2 linked regions of the Homo sapiens genome follow. The protein of the gene in region 1 purifies or fractionates together with the protein of each later gene. This does not show direct contact. Each region holds a gene or a part of one and is shown on either strand. Other genes may lie near its edges.

What was found.
Region 2: the proteins of QDPR (region 1) and TANGO2 fractionate together in Homo sapiens (co-fractionation; one large-scale study listed by BioGRID). This does not show direct contact.

Annotation. Positions count from the first base shown.
Region 1 is NC_000004.12:17,495,056-17,498,871, reverse strand, and holds part of QDPR (dihydropteridine reductase), read left to right. Parts: intron 1-3,816. UniProt on the Homo sapiens protein: Catalyzes the conversion of quinonoid dihydrobiopterin into tetrahydrobiopterin.
Region 2 is NC_000022.11:20,038,009-20,041,824, forward strand, and holds part of TANGO2 (transport and Golgi organization protein 2 homolog), read left to right. Parts: intron 1-3,816. UniProt on the Homo sapiens protein: May be involved in lipid homeostasis.

The sequences.
Region 1 (3,816 bases):
TGATGAATCAGGCTTAGTAGTCCCTCAAACTCAAGAAGATTTGTTTGCACATCAGAAGTTTTTCACTTGGAAGGATACTGAGAAAACCTCACCCTCCTATTTCCAAGTTTGTATTTCTAGACTGTCTTCTGTAGGACAAACAGTATTAAAATGGTGTTCACTTTTGTTTACCATTAAAGGATCTGTGCTGTGATTGGAAATCAGTTTTGGGGGACCACACTGATCATTCAGTAATTTGGAAGTGTTGACCTTCTTAGTGAAATGTCTTTTTTTTCATATCTTGCAAATAACCCCTTTTGTGTCCCCAAGGAAAGGTCATTCTTTAGAATTAAGCCATTACGGTTGCTATTTGCTTGTTTCTTTCCTTTGTCAGAGTCCCTGCTCTTGTGTTGTGTTGTTCGAATGGAGTCAAGAGAGAGCTCTGGGATTTTGAGGACCAGGGCTGGGTTAATGAGCACTTATGCCCTGGTTTATTTTAATCACTGAAGAGTTTGTTATGCCCCCTGATTAAACAGAGAAGCTAAGGATGGCGAAATATTCTTCTTGTGCTTCCAAATAGCTCTTTGAGACCTTGACCCTCTTTTGCAATTTGAGGTAGTTGTTGAAGCAGTTTTGTGATTGGTCCCTTGGCTGGGCTGTCATCCCCCCACCTCCCGCTGGACTTGCGATGCCTCCACAGCAATTACATCTTAAACAGTGTGTGTGCCGAGGATTTTAGGGAGCCTGATGACCTCTAGAAGAAATAGTGGTTTTCAGAAGGTGGAGAAGTTTACAGTGACTCATCATTCCTTCTTGCTATCATTATTCTGTGATAGCAGCATTTAGTGAGCAGCTACAGTTGGGCACAGTGGGGGAACATAAAGAGGAAAGACTCCATTCCTGCCACATGCCTGCGGGGCAGAGGGAAACCTACCTTAATAAAAGACATCCCTTGCTTCTGTCAGCAAATATCCATCGAATAGTGGGAGGAAAGGAAGACCAATAGGTAGCAGGTATACACAATGTCAAAATTTGCTCAAATGGTACACCCTAAATGTGTTTAAGTTTATTGTGTTTCAGTTATACCTCAACAGACTTGGCGAAAAAGAAAGAAATATTTTTAGGCATCTGTCTTCTGGGTGCTTGGCTTGTTGGGCTAAGCTTGATCTTATTTCATCACCAGAGGTATCTGTAAAGTAGGTCCTATTATTTTCCCTTGATTATGGAGGAAAAAAAGTTCAGTGATTTTAGGTGCCTTGTCTAAGACAACCTAGCTAGTTAGTAGCAGATTGGTCTGAGTAATACATTGATCAGTAATTAATATATAATTATAATCAGTAATTATAGCAATTACTGATAATATAATTATATAGAGATAATATAATTATATTCAGAGCCTCCTCCGGCAGCAAGGGTGCGGGTGGTGTGAGTGTGAGACCGGGCTACATTACGGTCTAAGCGGAGTGCTCTTGGTGGGGGTGAGTCCACCTCTGAAAAGGTTTTGTTGAGGGAGCTGATTCAAACAGGGTCTTGGAAAAGGACTTGCTTTGACAAATAGAGCTTATGGGAAAAGACAAGGCACTGTATTAGTTTTTATTTAAATAATTTAATCAGTTTTTAAATTGGAAAACTAACCAATGCATGTAGTAAAAATTCACATGGCACTAAAAGAAACACAATGAATAGGAAGACTCTCTCCTACTCACACCGCTGATCTCTATGGCACTCCCTCCCAGGCCCAACTACAGTGATGGCTTCTCAGGTGTCCTTTGGGAAGCATTCTGTGCCCATTCTAGTGTGTGCCCATGTCACATTCACATACTTTTTAAAAAGCACCATAATTTGGCAGGGCGCGATGGCTCATGCCTGTAATCCCAGCACTTTGGGAGGCCACAGCGGGTGGTTCACCTGAGTTCGAGACCAGCCTGGCCAACATGGTCAAACCCCATCTCTACTAAAAAATACAAAAATAACCAGCTGTTGTGGCAGTCACCTGTAATCCCAGCTACTCAGGAGGCTGAGGCAGGAGAATCGCTTGAACCTGGGAGGCGGTGGTTGCAGTGAGCCGAGATTGCGCCACTGCACTCCAGTCTGGGTGACAGAGTGAGACTCTGTCTCCAAACAAACAAAAAAAGAGGCTGAGGTGGGAGGATTGCTTGAGCCCTGGAGGTGAAGGATGCAGTGAGCTGAGATTGCACCATTGCACTCTAGCCTGGGCAACAGAGTAAGCTTGTCTCAAAAAAAAAAAAAGAAAAGCACCATAATTTGATGACTCGATAGAGGCTTTTCCATGCCTTATTCTTTTCACTTCATCATAGATTAAATAATTTAAAAGTTAGTTTGTCTGGAATATTGAGAAACTCACGAGTTACTGAGAATCACCTACCATAGTTTTAATGAACAGAGCTACCAGTTTGTTCTTTTTTTTTTTTTTTTTTTTTTTTTTTTTTGAGACAGTTTTGCCCTTATTGCCCAGGCTGGAGTGCAATGGCGCAATCTTGGCTCACCGCAACGTCTGACTCCTGGTTCAAGCAATTCTGCTGCCTCAGCCTCTGGAGCAGCTGGGATTACAGGCATGCATCACCACCCCCAGCTAACTTTGTATTTTTAGTAGAGACGGAGTTTCCCCACGTTGGTCAGGCTGGTCTTGAACTTCTGACCTCAGGTGATCCACCTGCCTTGGCCTCCCAAAGTGCTGGGATTACAGGCGTGAGCCACCGCACCTGGCCCCAGTTTGTTTTTTCATTCCCACAGTTTTTGAGTGGCCACCATTTGATTAAGCCCCATTATCCTCCTTTGAGAAACCCACCTATTGCTCTTTTCTGAAAGCAGTGAATAAAGTATTTATTTATTTATTTATTTATTTATTTTCCTTTTTTTTGGAGATATGGTCTGGCTCTGTCACCCAGGCTGGAGTGCAGTGGCGTGATCTTGGCTCACTGCAGCCTCGACCTCCCGGGGGCTCCAGCCGTCTTTCCACCTCAGCCTACCGGGTAGCTGAGACTACAGGCGCTCGCCATCACACCTGGCTAATTTCTGTATTTTTTGTGGAGACAGGGTTTCACCATGTTGCCCAGGCTGGTTTCAAACTCCTGGGCTCAAGAGATCCACTTGCCGCAGCCTCCCAAAGTGCTAGGATTACAAGCCTGAACTACCTCACCTGGCCAAATAAAGTATTTATTGATTGCCACCTTTTGGTTTGGGATACATTGGTGAACAAAACAATAAAAATCCCTGCCTCTGTGGAACTTACATTCTTCTGGGAATGAAAGAGCCCTTTCGAGTTTATGAGATGTGTCACGTTTCATGTCGTTTTCAGGAAAGCCTATTTAGCTTAGCATTGGATCCCATTTAGCAGGGAAGAACCAGAGGCTGAAAGAGCTGCTCGCCCAAGTCACAGTGGTGAGGAATCACCTGGGTTCCAACCCCTGGCCTCGAAGTCCAGATTCTGGGTTCTTTCTGGTGTGCTGTGCCGTTCCTGGGAGCCAGGGAGCTGCCTTGTGCTTCTTCGTCTTTCTAACACTGAGCCTAGGGATTCCCACATAGAAGAGGCTCCATGACATGGGGTGGGGTAAGTGGGTTTTGATGCCCGGGAGCAGGCAGACCCTGGCAGCCCCTTTCCAGGCTCTGGCTTTACAGGCAGCAGAGTGATGGCAGGTTGGTTTGATGGTGTTAAGGCCAGAGTTGTCACCATCCCCGTCATGCCACAGTCCTTCCACTGCTGATAAGGAAGGAAATGCCCCGGATGGGCCGCAGATGACTGCTTGATCTGGAGAGGAATCATCTATGATAATATGAATAATGATGAGCTGGGAGAGTGGGAGAAGCATCACCCCC
Region 2 (3,816 bases), on another chromosome or scaffold:
AACCTGGGAGGCAGAGCTTGCAGTGAGCCGAGATTGCGCCACTGCACTCCAGCATGGGCAACAGAGCGAGACTGCATCTCAAAAAAAAGATGAAGGTAAAATAAGGTCATGTGGGTAGGCCCTAATCAATGTGATGGGTGACTCAGATACGCACAGGGGAAGCTGGTGTGTATACAGAGATAGAAGCAGTCGTCTGCATACCGAGAAGACCCTCAAAAGGAGCCAGCCCTGCTGACGCCTTGATCTTGGATCTCCAGCATCCAATGCTGCGAGACAATAGTGTCTGTTGTTGCAGCCGCCTGGTCTGTGGTGCTTAGTTACGGCAGCCCCAGGAAACTAGCACGCTGAGGAGAGCCAGCCAGCTCTGTATGCGTTTCAGGGCTGCCTCCTGCAGGCTGCTGAAGAGACTCAACCCACCCCGAGTGCTCCCATCTCTGGAAAGGAAGCTTGATGGCTGGCCTGCGGGTGCTGGTCAGTGCCACCCAGCCCCTTGGGTGGAGAGGAGGAGGGTTGACATGGGCCCCTCTTGCTTTCACTCAGAACCCGTGTGTTGCTGCCAGGACCTGTCCTGCGGGTCCTGCCATTCCAGTTGGCCTCGGGATTTCTCTGGACTATTTTCCGAAGCCCTAAGCCAAAGACGAAATGTGCCACCTCTGGGTGACTGAGCAAATGTGCGCTGTGTTTTCCTGACTTCATGGGAGGGTGTGAGACACTTCTGGTGGCTGCTTCTGCTCTGCCTGTGGGGTGTCCAGCCAGGGGAAGGGCACGCTGCAGGCTGGGAGCACAGACACTTCTATGGAGCCCCTGACAGCACCTCTGCAGCACTTTGGGAGGCCTCGTACAGGTACCCAGCTAGGCTGGGCTGGACTCCTCACCTGTGGACTGGAGTAAAAAGTAGGGTGCTTTAGGCCACTATGTTTTTTTTTTTTATTATTATTATTATTATTTTAGAGACAGGATCTTGCTCTGTTGCCCAGGCTGGAGTACAGTGGTATGATCATAGCTTACTGCAGCCTCAAACTCGCCGGCTCAAGCGATCCTCCCACTTCAGCATGCCTAAGTAACTGGGACTACAACACCATGCCCGGCTAATTTTTTTTTTTTTGGTAGAGACAAGTTCTCACTATGTTGTCCAGGGTGGTCTCGAACTCCTGGGCCCAAGTGATCCTCCTGCCTCAGCCTCCCAAAATGCTGGGATTACATGCGTGAGCCACCATGCCCGGCCTCGGCCACTGTATTTGGTAATTTGATACCCATCACGGAAAACCAAGACCCTGCAGCAAGATAACACAATCACTTCATGATGTCACCCTATCTCTTTCAAAACTGCCTGTTTACAGCCGGGTGCGGTGGCTCACGCCTGTAATCCCAGCACTTTGGGAGGCTGAGGTGGGTGGATCACTTGAGGTCAGGAGTTCGAGACCAGCCTGGCCAACATGGTGAAACCCCATCTCTACTAAAAATACAAAAATTAGCCTGGCATGGTGGCGCACACCTGTAATCCCAGCTATTAGGGAGGCTAAGGCAGGAGAATTGCTTGAGCCTGGGAGGCAGAGGTTACAGGGAACTGAGATAGCGCCACTGCACTCCAGCCTGGATGACAGAGTGAGACTCCATCTTAAAAAAAAGAAAAAACGAAAAAAAACCTGCCTGTTTACAGCCCCACGTGATGCCACTTGCTGGCTTCAGCCTAGAGTGGCTGCAGGACAAGCTGTTACTCCATGGGACAGCTTCCATGGGGTCACCACTGAGGGTTTGATCACTGGATCTCAGGCCAGAGTACCTCCTATCTGTCACCAAACTGTCCCCCAGACAGTGCACACACTCACCCCCCGGCAGAACACACTCACCCCCCGAGATGATGCACATACCCCCCGGACAGTACACGCACTCACCCTGCCTAGCAGCGTGGGTGTCAGGTGGTGATGGATAATTAGTGGTTTCAGTTATTGGAACAAAATAAAGCCGAGGTGACTTGCCATCCTCAGGGACCTCACCGTGGTGGGTGCATCCCTGTCTCTCTGGACGTGGGGCGCAGATAGGCTTCTACCCATGTGCAGCCCCACCAGTGATGACTGAGAGAGCTACTTCCTCCTCCCTTTGGGGCTTGATCTGGGTGCTCAGCATGCTGGCTTGTCCCTGAATTATGTATTCAATGAAATCCCTGGCAAACCACCAGCAATTCAGCTAAACATGACTGCTGGAACAAAAATAACCTGGCAATTAATGTTCCTGAGTTATTAGGCAAACATATATAATTGCTCCTTGTTTAAAAACAGACAGCTGAACATCTTAGGACAAAAGTCCATGCTCAGTCAGCTTTTCTTCCTACTTTTCTCCCCTTTATTTTCCCTTTGTAAGAGCATTATGTCAGAATCAGCACCCGAAGCCAACAGCCCCAGCCTGGTTTGGGGCTGGACTGGGATGAGGTGTCCCTGGCTCCCCCGACCCCTGTTCACCTGCAGGGCTGTGGGACGTGGAAGCAGAGGAGGAAGGTATTTAAGAGAGAATGCTGAGCAGAACCACATGGAGCTTGACCCCACCCATAGGGTGGAGGAGCTGTCATCCCAGACCCTGGCACATCCCCACCATAGCACTCAGGGACTGCGGTGTTCCCCCTTCTCCTGCCCGCTGGCCAGGACACAACCAATGGGCACCTACAGGACTGGCCCATCCAGGTCTGGGGCAAGTGCACTGCCTTCTACTAGCACTGTCCAGCCCAGGGAAGGTGGGCTCTCCTGCCATCCCTGCTGCAGAGGTTGGGGGGCACTTCTGCCCAGAAGGGACATGGAGACTTGGGCTGGGTCTGGGTTGAAACATGGCAGTTAGAGGTACAAAGGCTGAGGCTCATCAGGGACAGAGACCACCTCCCCCTACCCCAGGCAGCACATCCCTGAGACCTGGTGCAGCCCTGGGGCCAGCTGGGTGTCAGACCAGGCTGAATGGGGCACCCTGGAGGTGGTAAGGCTTCCATAGCAGACCCCAAGGGCTCTAGGGCATGGCACAGTCCCTGGCAATGACCAAAAGCATTTCCCCAGTTCTGCTGGCAAGAAGCTTCAGGGGCAGGCACTGAGTGGGGGGCACACATGTGCACACAGGTGTGAATGCCTCCAAGGGCATGAATGGTGGGTGCTAGCACCATGTACTTTTTTGTTTGAAATGGAGTTTCGTTCTGTCGCCCAGGCTAGAGTGCAGTGGCACGATCTCAGCTCCCTGCAACCTCCGCCTCCCGGGTTCAAGCAATTCTCTGCCTCAACCTCTCGAGCAGCTGGGATTACAGGCGCCCGCCACCACACCCGGCTAATTTTTTTTTTTTTTTTTTGAGACGGAGTCTTGCTCTGTCACTCAGGCTGGAGTACAGTAGCATGATCTCGGCTCACTGCAAACTCTGCCTCCCGGGTTCACACCATTGTCCTGCCTCAGCCTCCCGAGTAGCTGGGACTACAGGCGCCCGCCACCACACCTGGCTAATTTTTTGTATTTTTAGTAGAGACGGGGTTTTACCGTGTTAGCCAGGATGGTCTCGATCTCTTGACCTCGTGATCCTCCCACCTTGGCCTCTCAAAGTGCTGGGATTACAGGCGTGAGCCACCGGGCCCGGCCTAATTTTTGTATTTTTAATAGAGATGGGGTTTCACCATCTTGGCCAGGCTGGTCTTGAACTCCTGACCTCATGATCCACCCACCTCGGCCTCGCAAAATGCTGGGATTACAGGCATGAGCCACCGTACCCAGCTGTGAGCACCACTTTCACTCCCAATTTTATGAATGTCTGTTATTTCACATTTAATCAGGAGCAAATGTTGTTTTATGAAA